Linked DNA regions of Homo sapiens: region 2 is linked to region 1. The links come from fine-mapping of genetic effects on gene expression. A gene starts in region 1. The other region holds a variant in brackets. All regions are shown on one strand. Distances are between the middles of the regions.

Region 1 (12,009 bases):
GTAGAGACGGGGTTTCACAGTGTTGCCCAGGCTGGTCTTGAACTCCTGAGCTCAGGCAATCCACCCGCCTTGGCCTCCCAAAGTCCTAGATTACAGGCATGAGCCACAGCGCCCAGCCGCTTTGTTTTTTTTTAAGAATTTGACAAAATGATATTAAACTTCATTAGAAAATTAAACACATGAGGGCTGGTCACAGTGGCTCACACCTGTAATCCCAGCACTTTGGGAGGCCAAGGCAGACAGATCACTTGAGGTCAGGAGTTTGACCAGCCAGGCCAACATGGTGAAACCTCGTCTCTACTAAAAACAGAAAACTTAGCCGGGTGTGGTGCAGGTGCCTGTAATCCCAGCTACTCAGGAGGCTGAGGCAGGAGAATAACATAAACCTGGGAGGCGTAGGTTGCAGACAGCTGAGATCACGCCACTGCACTCCACCTTGGGCAATGGAGTGAAACTCAGTCTCAAAAAAAAAAAAAAAGAAACAGAAAAAGAAAAACACATAACATGAAAATTTTAAAAAAGAATAATTAGTGAACATAATTTGACCAGACACTAAAACATGTTATACTGCTAGAGTAATTAAAACATTATGCCACAGGGGTAGAAATAAGTAGTCAGATCGTTAGACTAGAAACCAAAAGTAGACTCAAATACACAAAGAAATAGGGTTTATGATAAAAATCACATTACAAATCAATAGGCAAAAGATGGACTAAATAATACTGTTCAATAAATTATGCTGGCTTAACTTGCTGGCTGTTCAGAAAAAAAGTTAAGCCAGATTGCTACCTCATTCCTTTCTCCAAAATAGAGTATGGTGGCTCAAAATTTTTTAAAAAAATATAGCTAAATACATTATAGTCTTGGTGTAGGCAAGAAATATTTTCAAGTAGAATAGAAAACTCACAAGCCCTAAGAAAAAAATTGATAAACATAATTGCATACAAGTAAAAAGGTCTCTACAACCAAAAGAATTGTTGTAAGTACTAACATTTTTCCAAAAAATAAATAGAAAAGAAGGTTTGTATCAGGAGCTAATTTTCTATCAAGAGTATATACAATAAAAAAGAAAAAGACTCAAAAAATTTAAATGTATAAAAGATGCTAAATCTCACTAGTAAATTTTAAACGGCAAATCAAACTAATGAGATACCATTTGTCTCCTATCACACTGTCAAGATTTTTAGAAGTTTGATAATAGTGTTAAGAGAAATAAGCACTCTGAGACAACATGAGCGAAAGCGTAAACAATCTTTGTGAGGAATTATTAGTCAAAATCTACCAAATGCCCATTCCCTTTGTCTCTGTAATTCTACTGGTAGGCATTTACTTTACATATATAATCAAAAAAAGCACACTTAGATTTATATTAACAGAACATAAAAGAAAAACCATCATCTCGATCGATGCAGAAAAAGCATTCACAAAAAATTCAACATTTATTCAAAATTTAAAAACAACAACAAAAATCTCTCAACAGACTAGAAAGTGAAAGGAACTTCTTCATCTGATACAGGAATCTAGGAAAAACCTGAAGTTAACACCACACTTAATGGTGAAAAACCGAATGCTTTCACCTTAAGATCAGAAGCCAAGGATGTCTGCTCTCATCATTTATATTGAATACTGTGGTGAAGCCAGAATAATAAGTCAAGAAAAAGAAAATTTAAAAATCCAGATTAGAAGGGAAGAAGTAAAATGGGCTTAATTTGAAGATTACATGATTATCTATTTAAAAAACTGATGGAATTTATAAAAACATTACTAGAACTAATTAGTGAGTTTATCAGAATTACAGGATACAAACAAGGTCAATATTTTAAATTCAATTATATTTCTACATACTAGAAAGGAAAACTTTTCAACAGTGCTAAAACAATTGTAGAGCAATATGCAAAAAGAAAAAAAGAATCTTTATCCTTACACCACATATAAAAATTAACTTTAATCATTAAACAGATGTAAGAGCTAAAACTCTATTAAACTTGAAGTAGATAGACATACAAGATTGTTCACTATAGTATTATTTTCAGTAGAAAACCAGATACAACCTAGAGGCCCATCATCATGGAGAGATTATCTAATAAATCATAATAGTTACATAAAATTAAATACAATGTAGCCACAGGTAACCACCAAAAAGAAAAAAGGTAAATTTTCTGCCAATTAATATGGAAAGAATGCCAAATATACAATTAAGATTTGTTTTAAAAGTGTTGAATAGTGTATAGAGAGGACAATTTTTGTGTAAATACAAAGAATATTTGCATTTCTAGTCATTTTATGTGTATATTTGTGTGTATGTCTCTATGTATGTGTATATCCTTATATACATTTTTCCAGAAGGCTACACAGGAAACTCTTAAACTTTAGGGAGAGGTGGTAAAAATCAGAGAGTTTGGAAAAGAGAGAAATTTATATGCTTTTTAAAATTATTACACATTTTTAGTCATGTTTTTTGCTAGTGCATATGTTATTCTACTTTTTAAAATAAATATTTTTTAAAAAAACATATAAGAGATCTCTACAGAGGAGACTATTATGACCCAAATGTGTGCTGAAGTCAGAGGATAGCAGAAACCATATGAAACAGAGGCTCATCCTGAGAAGAAAAAGAAAACAGAGAAATAAGAAACTGAAAGGACCATGCTTGAGAGAGTGAGACAAAGAGGATTAGTGAGTGGGTTCACTGTGAATTCTACATCTTGGCCCTCTGAGGCCTGCTAAGCTTTGCTGTCTGTCCTTGTAACCCATGAAATTTCCTACTGCATTCTTCCAAGCAGCCCCTCTTTTCATGAGCTGATTTGAGTTTCTCGTGAGCTAGTTTTAGTTCCTTAACAACCCCAAATTGGTCTAGTCTGATCCCTTGTTGAATACCCTGAATTAGTCCCTAACGGAGGTACAGCCTTACCTTGTTGAAAGTAAAGCACTCTGCAGCATGCACCCTGTGAATGTCTGCAGTTAGTCAAGCCTAGCGAGCATGATTTAAATAGAAACTTGCCCAGCAACATTTTATACTCATTAGAAAATTCATGATGAAGATTTCCATTGCTCAGTATGCTATTCAGAATATTTTTTCTAGATGTTATAGTATGGTATATATGAATCACAAATCATAGAATGCTTTCAAATCTAGAGAATAGATTTTAGAAAGAAGAAATCGGAAACCTGAACTGTGAAATGTCAGAGGAAATCTGTACAAATATTAAATATAACACCCAGAGATACACAGAATAAGGAAACACATACCATACAAGCGTGAGTAAATTAGAGAATAATTCCAAACCAATACATAAGCAAGTGCATAATAGTTGTGTTAGTCCATTTTCTGCTGCTGTAACAGAATACCACAGACTGCATCATTTATAAACAATAGAAGTTTATTTGGCTCATGGTTCTGGAGGCTGGGAAGTCCAAGATCAAGGGGCCACATCTGGTGAGGGCCTTCTTGCTGCATCATAACATGGTGGAAGGTCTCACATAGTGAGACAGGGCAAGAGAGTGAGAGCTCAAGAGAGAGAAAAAGGAGACTGAACCTATCCTTTTACTAGGAGCCGTCTCCCACAATAACAGCATTAATCCATTCATAAGGGCAGAGCCCTCATGACCTAGTCACCTCTTAAAGGTCCCATTTCTTCTCACAATGGCAATTAAATTTCAACATGATCTTTGGAGGGGACATTCAAACCATAACCATGGTAAAGACGTAAGAGTAGGAACTGGCTTCTTCACAAACCACCTATCTGGATGCTGCTAGATAGGGCCTGTTCAAGTATAGCTCAAATGTCTTCTCTTCTAGGAGGCCTTTCCTAATTTTCCCACTAGAACTGACCTTTATGGTTCCACTGATTATGTACTCTTTTCCTTTCTTTAAATTTTATTTTATTTTAAGTTCCAGGTTACATGTGCAGGACGTGCAGGTTTGTTACACAGATAAACATGTGCTATGGTGGGTTGGCTGCACCTATTAAGCCCCCCATGCATTAGCTATTTATCCTGATGCTCCAGGGGAGACACTCAGGACTGGCATTTGACAGAGCTTGGTAGAGGAATCCAATGATCTCTAGGTTGATCTCTAAGTTCCATCTCTAATGTTCTATGGATTTTAAACCTTGAATATACAAAATTACTGAGAGGAAGAAAAGAATCATGGCATAATGGAATTTATCTACTATTGTTTACATTGTCATGTTACCAAATTAACAAATCTGTCATGATATTGCAGTCACTAAGGAACAATACATACCCACAGCTCTTACAAATGATTAACTAAATGATCAGATTTTTCATTTCCCCACCAAAGCATGAGGAAATTTATCTTAGCTTTAGCTGCCTGAAACCTCTCTTGGGTGAAAAACATTAAAAACATCTGCAAATTACTGATGACTAATGCCCTTCAATTTGGCCTCAAGCTGAGAAATTCTGTGCAGAAATAAAGTGGTTTATAATCCCACAGGTCCATTCTATTATAAACTGCAGGTGGCAAATCAAGTGACTATGAACTATGCTGTGTGTATGTGTGTGTGTGTGTGTGTGTGTGTGTGGTGTGTGTCTGTGTAAAAAGCAATACTCAAGAGGGTGTTTATCCTACTCCTTCAAGAGAAATTTAACCACCCAGACAAAAGGCAAATGCTAACTGAGAGGACCCAGGAATCTGGGTGATGTCAGACAGAGGCCCAAAGCCAGAGTGGCTGTCATCCCCCTCCACTGCCCACCAGCCAGGGCAGCTGCATCTGCCCTTTGCAGAAAAACAATCTAAAGCAAGCACAGAAGAAAGCTGGAAGGAAAATAACTGCAACTCACATCGATGACCTATTTTCTGAATCCGGCTTATGAGAGATTGGATTCTCATTCCTCCAAAAACCAGCAGAACACTTCAGGCCCAGAAAATGGTGTCTTTGATGACTAGAATGTATGACACATCATTACCAAAGGACTTTCGATCTAGGTTCCAAGAGGTGTTAGCCTCAGATGACTATTGTGGGAGGAGCTGATAAATCCACCAAATCCTTGGTGACTTTGCTTCACTATTAGGCAAGATTAAGATGATGCTAATTGGTAGTGAGCCTGATCTATTTAGTGTCTCCTACCAGGACACAGAGCAGAATCAAAACCATTCTCACAGATCCTGTTTGCATGTCATTTAACAGTTCCAATGTGATATTCCCCCAACCTTTTAAAGTTCCTTCATTCCAGATTAAATTCCTTCATTCCAAATGCTGCACAATCAAAACTAATCATCTTTTTGTGAGCAAAGGGCATAATCAAAGCATGTAGTCAGGGTCACTTTTCTGAACTGCAGATAAACCCAGGGGAAACACCATGAGTTTCTGATCTGAATTACCAAGCAATGAAACAGTGACTATTCAACAGTGACTATTCATTCAGTAGCATGCCCTGGGCTATATACAGAACAGTAGGTTAAGAGGAGGCAGGGGGTGGGGGGGTGGTGCTGGGCATGGTGGATCACGCCTGTAATCCCAGTACTTTGGGAGGCCAAGGCTCGTGGATCACCTGAGGTCAGGAGTTCGAGACCAGCCTGGCCAACATGGGGAAACCCCATCTCTACTAAAAATACAAAAATTAGCAGGGTATGGTGGTGTGCGCCTGTAATCCCAGCTACCAGGGATGCTGAGGCAGGAGAATTGTTTGAACCTGGGAAACGGAGGTTGCAGTGAGTAGAGATTCTGCCACTGCACTCCAGGCTGGGCAACAAAGTAAGACTCCATCTCAAAAAAAAAAAAAAAAAAAAAAAAGGGAGAGAGGGGAAGTGAGAAACAGGAGGGTAGGGTCCCCAGAAAGCTTCTTTTCTGGCCAGCTAACATGACACATAGGCCCATGTGAAATAGTTGAAGACTGTGCAATAACACTGGATAAGCTATATCCATCAATTCTGAGGAGGAGTCAGTTCAACCCAGGACCAAGACTTGAGTGGGAATGCTTCCTGGAGCAGATAAATCTAGGTACAGTTTTGAATGAAGAAGTGAAAAGGATTAGTGTAGATGAGGCAGGAGAGAAACCCAGAGCCAAGAAACAGCACACAGAGAATGCAAATATGAAGAAGGTGATTTAAAGGACAGCGATCTTACTCCCGCTAGTCAATAATGGCCTTTGTGTTTCCATTTACTGTCATAAGAATCTTAAGAATGGGGATAATGTGTTCTATCTTCCTATATTTCCTACAGTATTTGCACATAATAATTGCTCATATTATAGCTAGTAGAATCATGGATTCCTACAGTTGGACTGAACTTATCATCCCATCTGCTTGCAGAATAAATTAATAAATAAATGAACAGGTTATTAAAATTAACAGGTTGTTAAAAAGATCAGCCTGGTTCCAGTAGAAGAATTATAAAAATAATCAAGAGATGAAGTTGAATTTGTATACAAGAGTCAGTTGAAGGCAGAGCTTTCAGGCAGCCTGGGGGGCTGGAATTTTTCCTCAAAGGTGAGAGGGTGCCACACCAGGCTTTTAAACAGTAGAGTAACATAGGAAATTTTCTTTGAGAAAGAGTGTCTTGGCAGATTTTTGCAGGAAAAGGCAAATCAGAAGGCCAGCAGGATTCCATTGCAACAAGGAGTTAAAGGCTATACAGTCTGGAAGGTGACCGACAGCCTGCCCAGGCCCAAGGGAAAAAAAATACCAGATGCCCCAGCAGAGGAGGACTGGCTAGACTGTCTTCACCAGGGATTTGCCCGAGGCCCTTTCAGCCACTGGGCCCCAGTAATTTATCCTAATTTCCTTCCCCACAGCCCCGCCTCTCCACCTCAACCCTGATAGTACTTATTAGCTCAAAATGGACCATCTGAAGGAAGGGACAACCTCTTGCGAACGAACCGAGGGCCTGGTCTGCTCCAAATAAGTGTTTCCTCTAAGAAAGAAATTATAATGCATTCCTAGTGTGAGTGCAGCAGCAATAGCCTGACAGCCATTTGCATAATTTCTCTTCTGTAACAGACTTCAAAAATAACAATAGGCGAACTAGATAGAATCTATTAATTTTAAATTTGCTTGAGCTGCTATCTTTAATGAAGCTAAAGTACCATGAAGATTTTAAATCTATTAATTATGTGGTGTATTATTTGTTCTCTCCAATGAGACATTTTGGGGAATGGACATTTAATTTGTGTTGCTATAGAATCACCACCTTATTCTGGGATGTCCACTTGGTTTGAATGTACTGATAAGGTTGGAAGGTAGCGTGTTTAGAAAGTTCATCCAAGAGTAGCAGAAAAATGCTAATTAATGTCAAGAATAAAATATACGCACACACATCAAGTCAGGAATGACTCAGGAACGCAGAAGTGACCAGCCTGGGCACCATAGCAAAACTCTGTCTCTACAAAAAATAAATAAATTAGCAGGGCATGTTGGCACATGCCTGTAGTCCCAGCTACTTGGGAGGCTGAGGTGGGAGGATCATTTGGGCCCTGGAGTTCAAGTCTGCAGTGAGCTATGATCACACCACTGCACTCTCACCTGGGGGACAAAGTGAGACCCCACCTCAACAATAAAAATGTAAGAACCCGGAAGCAAAAGAATCTCATAGATGACTTTCGCAAGTGCTAAAACCACTACACAGCAACAGGAGGACAGGAACCATGCCTATCAGGTCCACCATTATATCTCCCATGCCTAACATAGGGCCTGGCATGTGGCTATATAATGTTGAAAGAAATGACCTACTGGATGGATGAATGAATGGGATTTCTTTACATAACAAAGGCAATTAAAATACCTAAGAAATATATGCATAAGATTTATTTTTCCAAAGAACTAAAAGAGCAATAATTTCATGATCATTTTCATTCATAAGCATACATGCCCACATGTGTGCACGGGCAAACACGCACACCCTTCAAGTAAAAACACCTTAAGAAGGAACTACATTGAAAAGAAAGGACTTTAAGTCTTAAATTATTTATTATAGCAGAAACATTTCAAACTAGCAAAGCATTTAATAACACTGTAAAATGAATTACCACAAGTAAACCTCTTAGTTTTCTTCATCCATTTATGGAGTGCCAGACACTACACTTGATGGCTGACAAATTGCAAAGAAGGAAAAAAAGAAAATACCTAACTTTTGAGTGTCTTCTGGATAATTTTTCCAAAGAACATCCTACTAAGTTATACTCTAAACAGGCCAGACGCGGTGGCTCATGCCTGTAATCCCAGCACTTTGGGAGGCCCAGGTGAGTGAATCGCCTAAGGTCAGGAGTTGGAGACCAGCCTGACCAATATGGTGAAACCCCATCTCTACTAAAAATACAAAAATTAGCTGGGCGTGGTGGCGGGCGCCTGTAAGCCCAGCTACTCAGGAGGCAGAGGCAGGAGAATCGCTTGAACACAGAAGGTAGAGGTTGCAGTGAGCTGAGATGGTGCCCACTGCACTCCAACCTGGGTGACAGAGCAGGACTCCGTCTCAAAAAAAAAAAAAAAAAAAAAGTTTTACTCTAAACAGATGAATTTTTAGCAGCACCAAATAATCCATTTTCTGCTCCATTTTAATATCCACATTTTCATTTCATGGGTTTTATCCCTCAATTCCAAATGACATTCTAAGTCAAATAAGAACTTAACCAAAGTCATCAGCTAATACTTAAAAAACAAATAAATCCTAATGGTAAAAGGAGAATCTCTGGGTATTAAGTCTGCCCTGAAAAACAGGGCAAACAATGTGTCCAGTTTCAGATTTTAAAAATTTGTGGATCTGGAGTTCGCCTGCTTTATCACACACACACACTGGGCACACACAGAGATCACCTGTGTGTGATCTGCTTTATCACACACACACACACACACACACACACACACACGGTACACACAGAGATCCCTGGGGATTGTTCCTGCACTTCCATACTTCTCTCTCCATAAAGCTCAATCTTCCTTCATCCTGAATACGGTGAAACTACTATGATCTTCCATACTACTTTCCTAATCATATTTTGGAAAATGTCATGTGGAAATCTTTTTGGTATTAGTATTTTCAAATCAATCCTTCCAACATACCCTGTAATCAAAGCACAGTGTGATTCATTCTGTCAACATCCAGTGGCTTTGGGAGGCCAAGGTGGGAGGATTGCTTGAGCCCAGGAGTTCAAGACCAGCCTGGGCAATATAGTGAGAACCCATCTCTACAAAACTAAAAGATTAAAAAAATTATCCAGGCATGATGGTGTGCAACTGTAGTCCCAGCGACTTGGGAGGCTGAAGTGGAAGGATGGCTTGAGTCCAGGAGTTCGAGCATGCAGTGAGCTATGATCTTGCCACTGCACTCCAGCCTGGACAACAGAGTGAGATACTGTTTCTACAAAAAACAAACAAAAACATTCCATGGTGCCTATGGTGTGGCAGGTCCTGGTGACATAAAGTAGCCTCCTTATCCCTATGGGGCTCAGAGCATGAGTGTTACAGAAGGGAAGTGCAAGGTGCTATAGGAGCCCATGACAAAGGAAATCAGGCCTCTGAGGTGATTCTCCAACTTGGTTGCACATTGGAATCACCTGAAGAGATTTACAAATATGGATTCCTGGTCCCACCTCTCCCTGGAAATTCTGGAGTATGGCTCTGAGCACCAGCAGTTTTTAAGCTTCCCAAAGAGGCAAAAAAGTTTGTGAATCATTGCTCTAGGGGGGTGGTTCTCGAACTTTTGTATTCATCAGAATCTTCTGGAGGGCTTGGTAAAACAGACTGCTGGACTCCACATCCAGAGTTTCTGACCCTGGTGGTGGAGAAGAGCCACAGAATATGCATCTCTAACAAGTTCCCAGGTGATGCTGGACCACCCTTTGAGAAACACTGCTTCAGAAAGCCAGCTGAGGAAGTGAGCTGAAGGGACAGGGGACGGGGGAATGTTTTCGGCAGAGGGAAGCACCGTGTGAAGGCCCAAAGTGGAGATAGCACCGCGGCAAGCAAATATTCCTGGAACCAAGAGATCTGAGGCATGGCCAGAGGTTAGGGAGCAAGGAGGATCATGCAGGGTAAGGCCAGTGATAGGTGGACACAAATCCTGGTCCTGCCATCTATGATTATGACTGAGAAAAAAAATGACTCCACAAAGCAAAAGAGGCTGCTCCTCTTCACAAGAATTGGCCACAGTAGTATTGTCCAATCAGTAGGGTTCTTAACTCTCAGATTATGAAAAATCCAGGCTGGCTTATTATTAAAAAGTAATAACACTCTTTGCAGGGTTAACATTTTATAGCTTTCATGACACTTTTGCAAGTGTTATCTCATCCAATTCTTAAAGAAATCCTGGAATGCAAGAAGGTCTGGCGCTCCTGCCTTCATTTTGCCAGGTCTAGAACCCCATTATCAGACTCCTGTTCTGGTCATCTTCTACTATAGCTCGTTACCCTCCAGCGTTTACTTCTACCCACAAATGGAAAAGTCCAGTCCTCTAGAAAATTCTTGTCCAAGTGCTGAGAAAAATATAGGAGAAACCAGCTCTCCACATAGGTGGTAACATACACACCTGCCCATAGCATTTACGCATGTGTCACCAGAGACTGTTCCAGAAGGCCCTGGCTATGTTTAGACAACTATTTGACTCTCCAGAAATTCAATCCAAAAGCCAGGCATGGTGGCTTATGCCTGTAATCCCAGTACCTTGGGAGGCCAAGAGAGGAGGATTGCTTAATGTCAGGAGTTCAAGACCAGCCTAAGCAACATAGGGAGAACTACCCTGCCAATCTCTACAAATTTAAAAATTAGCTCATGTGGTGGCATATGCTTGTAGTCCCAGATACTCAGGAGGCTAAAGCGGGAGAATCTCTTGAACCCAGAAGGCTGTAGTGAGCTATGATCTCACCACTGCACTCCAGCCTGGATGACAGGGAGACCCTGTCTCAAAAAAAAAAAAAAAAAAATTCAGTCAGAGTGTAAAGTTGATTTGGAAGAGAACTCAGATGTTTGTTTTCACATTCTTAGACACTAGTCCTGAAATTTGGGTAGCTGCCATGAGGGGGAAGTAATGTCTGGGTTTGGTTCTACCGTAAGCCAACAGGCTTGGCAAACTATGGATAACTTAGAGACCATACAAGTATAATAAACAATTCAGGAATTTTTTTTTCTGTCAAAATTAACACTCTTCAGAAAATATTGGCTACTATTTTAATTTTTACATTCTTTTTAAATTCAAGAATGTGTTGTGTCTTTTTCTGTGATTATAAAGTAGTACATGTTTGTAGGTGAGATGTTGGAAAATACAGGATACAAATCAAATAAAATCACCCCTAATCCTACCCAAAAACTAATCACTTTCAACATTTTGTTGTCTTTCCTTCAGACTTAAAAAAAAAATGCATGTGGGTAGGTGCAAGAGTGTCTATGGGTGGGTGTGCATTTTTTTTTAACCAGTGTTGACTACCTATTGTTTGATATTTGGTATTTTTAAAAATATTACATCATTTTTTAGTAGGTTTTAACATCATTTAACTATAATCTTGATTCTTAAAAGGAGATATCTCCACTCTCAGGATATCAGAATCACCAAGGAGGCATTTTAAAAATTATACCTTGCTTCCGAAGCTACAATCCTCCTCCACCCACCCTCACATTAAGATTTCTTGGTGGGCTGGGGCTTGTACAGACATATGAGAACTGCTAGTCTGCAAGAGGTATTACTGACCATTCCTCTTTCCCTTACACGGGCACACCAAATTAGTTAACTGATGCCCCATAAGCATTTTGTTGTTTCCAATTTTTCCTTATTTATGAGCTACTGCAATCAACATCTTAGCATTCATATATACATACGTAATGGTTTTAAGTTAAAGTCCTGGGTATAGACTTGCTAGACAAAAGGATTTAAATATTTTTAAGGCTTATGAATAACTTTTGGGGAAAGATGTAACCTAGACTAGAGAATGATCAAAATATATAAAAACTATTGACTATATTAAGAATATTTCTTATAATGAACGAATGGTTTTCAATCACTGGTTCTCCTAGGTAAAAGACAACCAAGACCTTTCTCTTTCTTACTTAGATGTCAAACATCC
Region 2 (12,009 bases), 200 kb before region 1:
AACCCAGTGTCTAACACGCAGTAAGCACGCAATAAATGTTAACTATTATTGCTATAGTTTGCTTTAAAAAGGTATTCTCAAGATGTAAAAATTCCATTTGTATTACATTACTATCTGCAGTTTGGAGTATATACATCTAGGGTAGCATAATTTTATTCTTACTTTTTCTTTCTCTTCATTTGCCCTTGTGAGTTTTAATTTCCTATTAAGGAGCAGTATGCTCTTAAAACATCCCTTACCTGTGGAGAGTATATGCTTAGATTCTGGAAGGGGTTTAAGGCAATTAAGATGTCTCCAACATATGTGTAAATTAGCAAGTCTGCATAACGTTTCTGCAACTGATGGATAATTGTATCCTAAGAAGAGGATAAATGGTATTGAGGTAAATATTATTCCCAGTCAAGGGATAGATTCTAAAAATGACAACAAATTTATTCTTCCAAGAACATCTTTCTCTAAACGATGAAAGTAGTCCATTTAAATCATACAATGACCCTAATGATCCCAATTCATTAAAACAATGCCAATATTTGCCTTGAAAGAAAAAATAGGAATACACTGAAAGAATTAGGCCCACTTAGGACTTGCTAAAAGACACTGAGATATCCAACAAAGATTTTACTTGTTATTGTGAAAAAAAAACTCATCTCAACCAGTCAAAATGTTGTATTTAAAATTTTATTTAATAGGCTGTTCCTACTGATAGAGCACCGACAGAATGGTAAGTTAATTTCTCAAAGCACTGCACTTAAAACCTAGGTGGCATAAATACAGAATTAACCACTTTGTATTACACTTTAGTGATTTAGACATTGAAGGTAACAATCCCCAGAGTTAGACTCAGCATAAACAGGTCCAGTGCAATTAACAGCTCTATTAAACATGCATATTTTAAATGGGGATTATCACAGACTTCAAATTTAGAATTCAAGCTATATTAACTTCACTATTTCCCTAAATGAAGCTCTTTCTTATGAAGAACAAACAACTTCTTAAGGGTTAATTGAAATATTTTATCAAATTTTATCAAACAAAATATTTTCAGCTGATATAATCCATCATTAAGGCTACAATATAAAGAGCTTTATTGCAAAAATCCAAATCCTTTTCTCTTCATCATTCTAGGGGCTATCTAAATAAACACAGCACAGGATCATAGTCACAGCAACTGAATGCTCCCTGAACTTCATCCCATAGCTACACAAACAATTAAATTTTCAAATGACCTTAGGAGGACATGGTCTACAACAGAAAGTTCAGACCATTCACATGAAACAAATGTCTTCAATGAGAATTGTCTACTAAATATTTAGTACCTCATCCAGAACCTCTAGGTTGACCAAATCATCCTCAAGGCAGTATTTTTCAGCATCTTCCACATGATAAGGTCTTCTGGTATGCATCCTCTCATGCCTAGAAATTTATCAAGAGAGTTTAAGCATTAAGACAGCAAATAATGTAGCAGAAAGCGGGCAGCAAGCATGGCTCATTCACAATCTTATCACGTGATATGTTCAGAGACTTCAGAGACAGGGACAGGAAGTCCAGTCCAGGTCCCCAGGCTTTTCCTGCCACTGTAGAACTATTGGGATAAAGTGATCTCCATAGTTCAAGTCTACTTCCTGCCAGAGTGAGGAGTGTTACCAAATGGGCCCACCTAATACACATACTTGCTTTTCTTAAATGCCAAAGACAGCACTTCCAGAATAAACACCTCTGACTTCTGCTCAGTGTCAGGCACATAGTTCTCACTGGGGTATAGCCATAAGTGCCTTACTTCCCTTGAGGTCCCCTTGCTTTATCTACCAGCACCACCCCCAACTTTTGTGATAGTTTTTAACCTACGTAACACTTTCAGAGATTAATATAGTAAATACCAAATAATTGATCACTGTTTATGTTTTTTCTTATTCATGTGAAATCCCTTTGTGACCCTTGTCCCATCCCACTCCTCTCTCCTGAGGTGACCACTATTTGATGGGTTTCCTTCCAGTCTATTTTTAAATATTGGTCATATGCCTATAGATACCCATGAGCAATATACAGGTTCTGTATGTTTAGTTATAAAAATGATATCATACTTAGGTTTTATACTGTAAGCTTACTTTTTTCATTAAACATTATGATTTTTAAACTCTATTTATCTATCTATCTACCTATCTACCTTACCCACTTACCTACCTACCTAGTTCAGTCACTTTAATCACTGGGTAGTATTATACTTTATGAATATGTACCTATTTATTTACTCAGTCCGATGGGGGGGGTTGTTGTTTTTAAAATTTTATTTATTTATTTAGTAATTTTTAGAGATGGGGTCTTGCTCTGTCACCAGGCTGAAATGCAGTGGCATAGTCATAGCTCACTGCAGCCTCAAACTCTTGGGCTCAAGCAACCCTCCCCACTCAGCCTCTCAACTAGCTGGTACTAGAAGTATGCACTATTGTGCCTGGCTAATTTTTTAAAATTATTTTTTGTAGAGATGGAGTTTTGCTTTGTTGTCCAGGCTAATCTCAAACTTCTGGCTTCAAGTGATCCTGCCACCTTGGCCTCTCAAAGTGCTGGGATTACAGGCATATGCCACTGCACCCGGCCTACTCAGTCCTATGTTGATCAACATTTAGGCTGATTCCAATTTTTTTGCTACTAGTAATAATGCAACACTTAAAACTTTATACACATCTTTTTGTGTATATATGTGAGTTTTTCTCCTGGAGGGCACTGTTCACTAAGGATTTAAAAATCTTGTTTGATAATCAGTAATAATCCCCTCTGGTATACTAAAATATAGCTCTTTAAGGTTTAAAATTAATTCAAGGTCAAAGTAGGCCTTCCCGTAATTCCTTTCATAAACTCATCACTCCTCAATGCGGTTTAGGAGGAAAGCATTGGCTAGAAGAGCTCTGGACCCTAGTTTCAGAGTTGCGAGCAATGTGGTATGAGACACTCAGCAAATCCCTTAACAGCCAGTATATCGGTTTTCTTCATCTATAAATAGAATTACTCATAACTGATCTGTCTATCTCCCAGGTAGCTGTGAAAGCACATATAGTCATGGATATAAAAATGCAATAAAGTTGAAAACATGTACTAATTATTATTCTTACATCCTTGTTAACATTTGGAATCAACAATTTGCATAACTACACACATTACTCTGAATATCATTGACTAAACAAAATCATACATAAACTGTCCTACATACTGTAAATTCACTAGCCCAGAAGCATAACTTCTTGATTCTTCTCTGTCACTTTTGTGCCCATCAACATCACAGCTTATGAGGATATCACCCACCAATACAATTCTATCTAGCTAGATCCTAGAAGCTGGTGTTGACTGAAAGTTTTATGGTAAGTACCAGCTAGAAGTCATGGAATCTTGATGTACACCCCACCCTTTGGTATGCATTTCACAAAAGTAGGTAAAAAGGAAGAAGCAAACTTATCAGCTCTGCATATTGAGTCTTGAGTTTATAATGCAATATTAATGGCCAAATAAAATGGATTTCTCTCTTTCTAGCCTATTAAGTTAAATCTTACCTTTCAATCTCCATCACTGATAAATTTGAAAAGAGATATTTGAAGCATGCTATTAGTCATCTCCAGTCCTAGAACCAGTTTTGCTGCTAATTCATATAAAGGTCCAAAGTAGAATGAAGCTTAATTTTTATTTAATCAAATCAAATTTATAACCTAAGCAGTTTAAAATTATTAAACAGAATTATTTATCTGTGACTTTACATATTGGTGATGGCAAAGAAAAATCAAATTGGTTTGTAATACAGATTTTTACTAAAACTCAGAGCTGCTGCCTGCCTCTAGCTAGCCATTTTGTTAAATAAAACAGCAGGAGGATACATATTTCCGATCAAAATCCCCTTCACATAAAACCTAAGAATAATTTTGCTTGAAGTTAATCAAAAAACAAAATACTGGCTGGGTACAGTGGTTCACGCCTGTAATCCCAGCACTTTGGGCGGCCAAGGCGGGTGGATCACAAGGTCAAGAGATTAAGACCATCCTGGCCAACATGGTGAAATCCCGTCTCTACCAAAAATACAAAAATTAGCTAGGCGTGGTGGTGCACGCCTGTAGCCCCAGCTACTCAGGAGGCTGAGGCAGGAGAATTGCTTGAACCCGGGAGGCAGAGGTTGCAGTGAGCCGAGATCAAGCCACTGCATGCCAACCTGGCAACAGAGCAAGATTCCGTCTCAAAAAAAAAAAAAAAAAAATTGTACCACATTTTCATGAAATAATTAAATTACCATATTAAATTCAGCTAGTTTGTCTCCTTCCTACATTTATATCTTATAATTGCATATTCTGCACATCATTTGACAAAGAAAATCAATAATTAAAAAATTACCTCAGATCTGGTTCTGGTCAAGATGGAGTAAGCCCTCTCCACTCCTCACTGAAGACAACTAAATACCCTTGTCAGAATGCATGGAGCAGCTATCTTAAGACTCTGAGAAGTAAATTGTAACAGGCAGACTGGGGAAGGAAGTCAGAACTCAAAATACCACTGAACCAATGGTGAGTTTTCCAGGCTTTTTTTTCCTTCAGTAACTCCTGACCTGGATTTAATGGCAGCCTGAGCTGCATACAGAAATGCCAAGCTTCACATTGGATGACATTTTTATAGCCAACTAAAAATGGAAGCATGGACCAAACCTTACTTGCAATCTCACAAATAGATGCAGTCTAGTAGAAAGTTTTAATTTTCAGTGTGAATATACACAATGCAATATCACTAGGATCAACATTGGTATCTTCTGAGCCTGAAGGAGATTGTGTGCTATGCCAATCTGTCTCACAGATATAACTTCCAAGAATCATGCAGATGTTGTCTGCAAATCTGAGCTTGATTCTTGTAAAAAATCTTCCCCAATAATATTGTATTAACAAAAAATAACTTTTTAAAAATTTTAACTGCTATTAGTAGCAATGTGTGGCCTCTTTCCATGCTTACAGGTGATCAAATTCTTTAGAAATATTTGCTCCTAAAAGTGAAGTAGGCAATCTAGAAGTGGATGTAGATGCAAGACTTCTCTACTCTGATAAAGACCACTTCGTTTTCTCAACCAGAAAAAATATATATATGTGTAGCACTATTTCTGCCTTCCACAACTAGTGTTCTTTGGAAACTGCTGCCCGCTTAACTTTCCTCCTCTGGCTATGGGGTTTGGAGGGTCTATCGTAGAGAAAAAGCATTATTTATTTCAATTTTTATCTCCTTTAAAAACATTTTCCTAGACTTTGCATAAGCTTATAAAAAGCGTTACGTTGTTTTATATTTCTCTATTTTTAGTTGAAATTAATAAAAATAAACTTGGTTTATTTTTTTAATTTTATTGAGTTAAGTGATTTGTGTCATTAGTAACTATAGATCTTAATTTCCTTTAAATTCACATGCTCCATCTAGTGCCCTACTTGAGAATAGGACCTATTATCAATTTTTGCTGAAGAATTCCTCGTTTAATGTGAAAATTACAGATCTCCAACTAAAAGCTACTTGGATCGAGTATTCCAAAGCTCAGAGGAATGGAGACATAGATAAATGAATGGATAAACAGCAAAAAACATTCTACTAAATCAAAAGTATGTGGTAAGGCACTGTAGTTTTAATGGCTCAGAAGACGTTTTCAAATTCCAGTAAAGTTTATATTGCTTTTCTTAGATTTCCTACTTGTTTTTATGA[G/C]TTTGTAAGTATGTTGGCTGCCAAGGCTGGCTTCTCAGACAAACAGAGTTTGCGAGTTGGAGCTTAGAGGGAAAGTCTTGGCTTGGACTGGTTCCTGGAGTTTGCTTTTGGTGTGGCAGTGGAGCGGGAGACTGTGGAGAGCAGGACGGGCCTTAGGTTTCAGGGATCAGGTAAAGGGGAAACTGGTGCCTGAATCCATGGATCAAGTAGGGTGGGAATGAGGGCAAGTCTGTACCATCAAGTCCAAGGAAATGAGTGCAGCGTAAGAATAGAATCTGAAGAACGGGAAAGACAGAGCCAGAGGTAGAGGCTGGGAGTTCCCCTAAGACAACAGTGGGCATAGATGAGGTAGAGGATGGGGGTCTTTGTTCAAATCTTTGGCCCAGCCAATGAGTGGGAAAGGAGCTTTAGAGGACACCAAACTGGTTTAAACACTAGAAGAATTATTCTCATGAAATAAACTCCTAAAGTGTTGCAGCTTTCACTCTAGTTTAATCTCTGTATCTGCATTATGGTTAAAACCATTTCTGTGTCATTGTTCTCTAATATCTCATCACTGGGCCTGCTAGCTTCTTTGTTTGAGCTGCTAGTCCTATGAACTATATTGACAAACATATTTTGCCCAAAAGTGACTCATTAATCAATTAGCCTCTTTCTGTCTGCCAGTTATGCCTATGGAAGTGGAGGCTTCCATGTAGGTAGGTACAAACAGAGCTGCAAGAACTTCACGTAGGTGAGACAGGATACGCTCTTCCTTTCACTCCCCAACTATGATGAAGAACAAGTAATAGAAAAAGGTGCTCTAAATCATAACTCAAACATGAGAAGGAAACAAATTCTTCTAGCTTATCAATTCAGCCTAATAATAATAACAACAAGCAATATACTCCTAAGAAGTTAATCTCTGCACTGAGAAATGCCTGCTGGCTTCTTAGAGAGTCACCCTGTGTCAGCACCATTGTGAAGGTCACCTCTGCCTCTGCTCCTCCACACCCAGGATAAGAACCCTCTCCTCCGTCCAAGAGTGGAACTGCAAAAAGTGGAGAATGACTATCACTGTTACCAGATTCCAGATGGAAAAGGAAGTAAAATTTGTTGCGGATAGAGGCAAAAAAAAAAATAGAGAGAGGGAATAAGGAAAAAGGTGCAGGCTCAAAGATGTCAGTCCTCAAGAATCTAGGACAAAAGCCTCCATGGCCATAGAGAGAACTCAGGGATCACTCCCTTATCACTACATTCAATGGATTCCATACAAGAAAGAAAACATTACTCAAAACTGAGAATAGAGTACTGTTACTACACCAAGGTCAGTGATGTTGAATATTTCTTCTAAATCTTAATTTCCATTCAATATACCCTTTGATAACAGAGCCAATGAAAGAGGGACTTTTATTTTACCGTAACTATATAATAATGGACCTCAAACGAGAAAAACAATAGCAGACCTTTGAGGAATGACATTATTCTACTGAGAGTCAAATATGGACAGAGATAGCAGCTGGATACCTTTAACTACATGAGCTGTATCTTGACCCTGAACTTAAGGCTATGTCTTTCAAACAATACAATGCATAAATTTTAAAATAGGAGAATTGTTTGGGTGGAAATTATTATAGTATCTGCCCATTTTTCATCTAAGCACCGTTTTGGCCAGAATCCCAATAAATCAGCATCTTATCATTAATCATATTAAACAGTATTTGATATACCCAACTTCTCTAAGCGGCAAGAATCAGTAACACCAGCATAAAATTAATATTAACTAACTTACTCATTTGTAGATAGACAGATATAGGTATAGATAGATAGCAGATACTAATTATAGCAAGGTATAGATTTATTTCTTCTGTTAGGAAGATAAAAGGATATTTAACCTCCTGTGTGTTAAGCTTCTTCAGCACTTTATGAAGTAATCTTTCTGGAGTTACTTATTTACATAAGAACCCAATAACCCATTAGTGTATATAATATGGGGTGCTCTGTGTGTGTGTGTGTGTGTGTGTGCATGCATGCACATATTTGAAGGTAGAAGAGGGAGAGAGTGAGCAAGGATTACTGGGGAAAACTAGCAGTTAAATAGTGAGAAATCTGTTTTTAAAGGTCATTGCTGCAGGTTGAAAAGAAATCAAAAGCTGAAGTCATTGTTTTAATCAGCCTCAGGCAAATTGCAAGGGCGACATGACAACCCATTAAACAGAGCAGAAAAAAAAAAAACCCAGCAACTTAATTCTTCTACCAAGTAATACTTAGAACAGACCCTTGGCATTTAGGGTTTAACATCTGTGGTTTCAGCTAGTACCAAGCCACCTGCAGGGGCACGGCATGCTGGATCTTGTAATTTTACTGAGGTTCACGGTTGAGTTCATGGTCGTGGCAGAGACAATCGAGTCCTTTCCCTGCCTCCACTCACATTCCAGAGAGTGGTTTCACTCTTCTCCCAATAACCCTTGTAAAATGATACAAAGCATGTTTTCAATCTACTTCTCTGAACTTTAACAGTGAGATGACATACCAGATGATACTAATGAATTCAGGGATTTGCAAAACTGGTTTGGGGAAGAAGTCGTCTTTTTGCAGATCAAGGAAATAGGTGCTGATATAAAGGAAATGACCAAATAGTTTAAAAACACCTCCAACAGATGAAGTAACAATGTACTTTCAGCCCATTGTTCACATAGTTTTAGGGCTTCTTTAGCCCTTTAGGGCTTACTCCTTTAAAAGAGTAAGACTTGGATTAATAACTGCTCTATTGTACCTGAATCAAATACATGCATTGGCACAATTATAATTTACTGGAAAAACTTAAATTCCAATGATGTCATACATACACTATAATCAGCATCAGGTAATGGTATCTATCAAATCTCAAATAGTACAATATCACTTCTCCACAGGTGCCTCTGCTGTCCTGTATCTATATCTGTAGTGTGTGTGTGTGTGTGTGTGTGTGTGTGTGTGTGTGTGTGTATGTATGCATATATATATATAGAGAGAGTGAAATAGGGATGAATCACATCCTGGCTTTCCAAAAAGCACTCAGAAAAGCCTGAATGGTTAGACCCAGGAGAGGTGAGACAGGGGACTTACAAATTCAAGCCCTCCAAGCACAGTACAGCTTCTGCTCTATGTGAACAAGCCCTCCATGATTCTTAGCCTTGTTTTTGAATACTCTTGAATATGTGCCATAACTGAGATGGATCTGATCTAAGAGTTCCTCAACCTGTCAACACTTAAAAAACATTTCTTTCTATTCCACCGAAGTTGCCCACAAGCTCAGCTATCCTTAGTTCCTAATTATCTATCAAAAGTTCCTAGGATCTCAGTTCTACAATCCCTTTTCTCATCATCCCCTCACTGAATCTGCTCTTCATCTTTGTTGTAATAGCCAGTCCCAGGACTAGATCAGCCTCAAAGTCAATAAGCCAGTCTGGTGTCACTTTCTTCCCTACCCACAAAGATCCCAAGGCCACTCTTCTACTAACCTCGATTCCCTTGCTTCCTTGCCCACTCATCATGTCCACTGAAGTCAGTCTCTAGCCTGAAGAAGACCATAATGTCTGCTTTCTCTACTCCTAACTCCTTGCTGCTAAGAGTTAATTGAGATGACAGATGAGAAAGGCGGCAGTGGTGATGGTGCATTTTCTGAGAGTTTCTAGTGCCAAGTGTCCTGAATGCTCTACATGCATTATCTTAGACACTGATTAACTTCACTACAATAGGATGCTATTCAGTTGCATTCTACCTGGGTTTTCTATGCTATTAAGCAATCATGATGTCGATCTTTAACTGACCCTTTATCATATTCCTCATAGTGAATATCTCAAAGATTTAACGATTCCCTGGAGTCCACAATCCACTCCCAACTCTGAAACCTTGCTAAGTTTTTTTTTTTTTTTTAAAGGCCATTCAACATGAATTTCCTCACAATGCCTCCTCTCCTAAGTTTTCTGAGTACTTTTATCTAACCTTTCTGTGTCTTTCCCAACTTAGAGTTTCTCTCTTTCTAAAGTCAACCTCCCTTTTAGGCCCCTGACCCACTCCCTCTTGCTTCCTCCATTGCTTCCTCTCTCTTCTGTCTTCGTTGTCTCCCTCTCTATATATATCCTTCCCCTTTACCTGTCCAAGTGTTCCCCCATCCTTTAAGAACTTGCATTCTTCCCTGCATCCTGCTCAAACTACCAACTTCTCTCTCCCCTGGGAAAAGTACTAAAGTGGACTGAACGTTCCTTACCTTTGCAGGAATGGTAAGAAAGTTTTCCCTGTAGATTATAGGTTTCATTACTCTGTATCAGCTCTCAAATCCAAAAAGAGTTGCTACAGCTGGAGGGCCCAGGACTGCCTAGACCATTGAAGAACTCTCTTTTGGGCAGAAAGCTGGAAGCTTTGTGTAATATCTGGAAGTACTTGGCATTGCATTTGATAGACTATGAAGACGTGTCTTGCAATTTCTACATGATTGCATTGTGAACCAGGCCAGGGAGGCAGCCCAGTTTGGGTAGGCCCCAACACACTTCTCTGTTTCCCTAATCTCCCTCAATCAATCCATCACTAAGTCCTGACAATATCATTATTTTAATATCTTCTGCCATTTGTAATTACTATGATCTGCTCACTAGTTCCCTGGCTGCAGCCTTACCCTGCTTCATTCTCCATACTGCAATCAGAACAACTTTCTGGAACTCTTCAATGGCTCCCTAGCACCTAAGAAACAAATTCAAGCTCCTTAGGCCCATGGTGACGTGGCTCCTGTCTACCTTGTCTCTCCCTCCCACCTACCCCATGCCAAGCTCCAGCCATGTCAACTAATTGTTCACCAGATTCCCCAAGCTCTCTCTAGCCCTTGTGCCTTGCCCTTTGCTCATTGCTCTTTCTTTCCCCTCTACCCCGAATAACCCCCTTTCCTTGACTATCTTTGATTTGTTCTTCAGGGCAGTTCAAGGATCATCTACCCAGCAGCTCCAGGGCATCTTCCCCTACCATCCCAACCCCAGACTGACTTAGGTGTCTTTACCAGGTGCTCTGAGAGGTATCCCAGGCATTCCTTTATCTAGGTACTTTTCATTTTGAACTGTTCTCACCTGATTCTTGTCTCTATCACACACCAGACTATTAGCTCTTTATCAGGAACTGCATCTGATTTGCCTTTGTAGTCCCTCTGTTCAGCATAGGGCCTGACACATACACATGTATAAATGCCTCTTGAATGAATAAATTAGATATTGAATAAGAGATAAAATGGGATATTTTAAACATTCAGTACCTCAGTAGTGTTTATTTTCATGATCTTGTACAGTAAGTAAAAAGATGAATTTGCACAGATTATGGGCAAGAGGTAGTTAGTGTTAAAAAGAAATGAAAGACTCAGAATTAAATAGACCTTGTACACTACTTCTACTACTAACATTTATGGAGGTTGCATTATTCTAAGCATTTTACATGTATTGACTCACTTAACCCTCAAAATAACCCCCGTTTTATAGAAGAAACTTTGGAAGAGAAAGATTAAAAACTTATCCAGTTAGTGGCTGGCCTGAGATCCAAACCTGGCAGAGCAATAGATTTTTTTCTTTGTTGTTGTTGTTTTTTTTTTTTTTTTTTTTTTTTTTTGAGACAGGGTCTCACTCTGTTGCCCAGGCTGGAATGCAGTGGTGCAATCACAGTTTGCTGCAGCCTCAAACTCCTGGGCTCAAGTGATCCTGCCATGTCAGCCTCCGGGGACTACAGGCATGTGCCACCATGCACGGCTAATTTTTCTTTTATTTTTTATTATTTATTTAATTTTTTTAGTAGAGATGAGGTCTTGCTATAGTGACCAGCCTGGTCTCAAACTCCTGGGCTCAAGTGATCCTCCTATCTCAGCCTCCCAACGTGCTGGGATTACACGTGTGAGCCACCACACCCTGCCAAGCCAGTGGTTTTAATCACCACATTGCACTGCCTGCCGGGTGGCCATAACTGTGCAGAAAAATGATGAGCGGGTAATTAGGCCTCAATCATCTATATACTCACCTCAATTTTTCTGTTTTTTTTTTTTTCTGCTTTAACTTGAAAAACCACAGCTTTAAATATATTGATTTATCAGCATGGAATGATATTTGAGAGTTTTTCCTGGTGGGCTGAAAAACATCTATGTAGCCAGCTCCTTGCCAGTTGCTAAGAGGAAGTAATAGTACAAGAGAGGTGGCAGGTTAAGTGTCAATTACGTGCACTGTGTTTCCTTTGGAATTAATTTTCCCACATCCTAAGGAAGTGTCTGTTTAAAGTGTTGATACCTATTTGTGAGGTTGTATTTTTTTTTAATGATAG

Which allele goes with the higher level. Positions count from the first base shown, and alleles are read on the strand shown. Sizes are in standard deviations (SD) of each study's normalised expression.
For the expression in tibial artery of the gene that starts at base 4,946 in region 1, C is the high allele of the variant in region 2 and G is the other (moderate effect, 0.43 SD a copy in GTEx).

The links.
Region 2: its variant is fine-mapped to the expression of MYO3B in tibial artery (GTEx, PIP above 0.99).

Annotation. Positions count from the first base shown.
Region 1 is chr2:170,171,084-170,183,092 of GRCh38, reverse strand. MYO3B (myosin IIIB) reads right to left here and starts at 4,946. Exons shown (of 35, transcript NM_138995.5): 1 at 4,804-4,946. The coding sequence starts at 4,805. RefSeq lists an enhancer at 2,535-2,764.
Region 2 is chr2:170,371,420-170,383,428 of GRCh38, reverse strand. MYO3B (myosin IIIB) reads right to left here. Exons shown (of 35, transcript NM_138995.5): 10 at 1,317-1,413; 11 at 240-356. Among named protein-coding and RNA genes, the nearest start is that of MYO3B-AS1, 26 kb to the right of the region's middle. The variant G/C (reference allele first, on the strand shown) is at 5,704.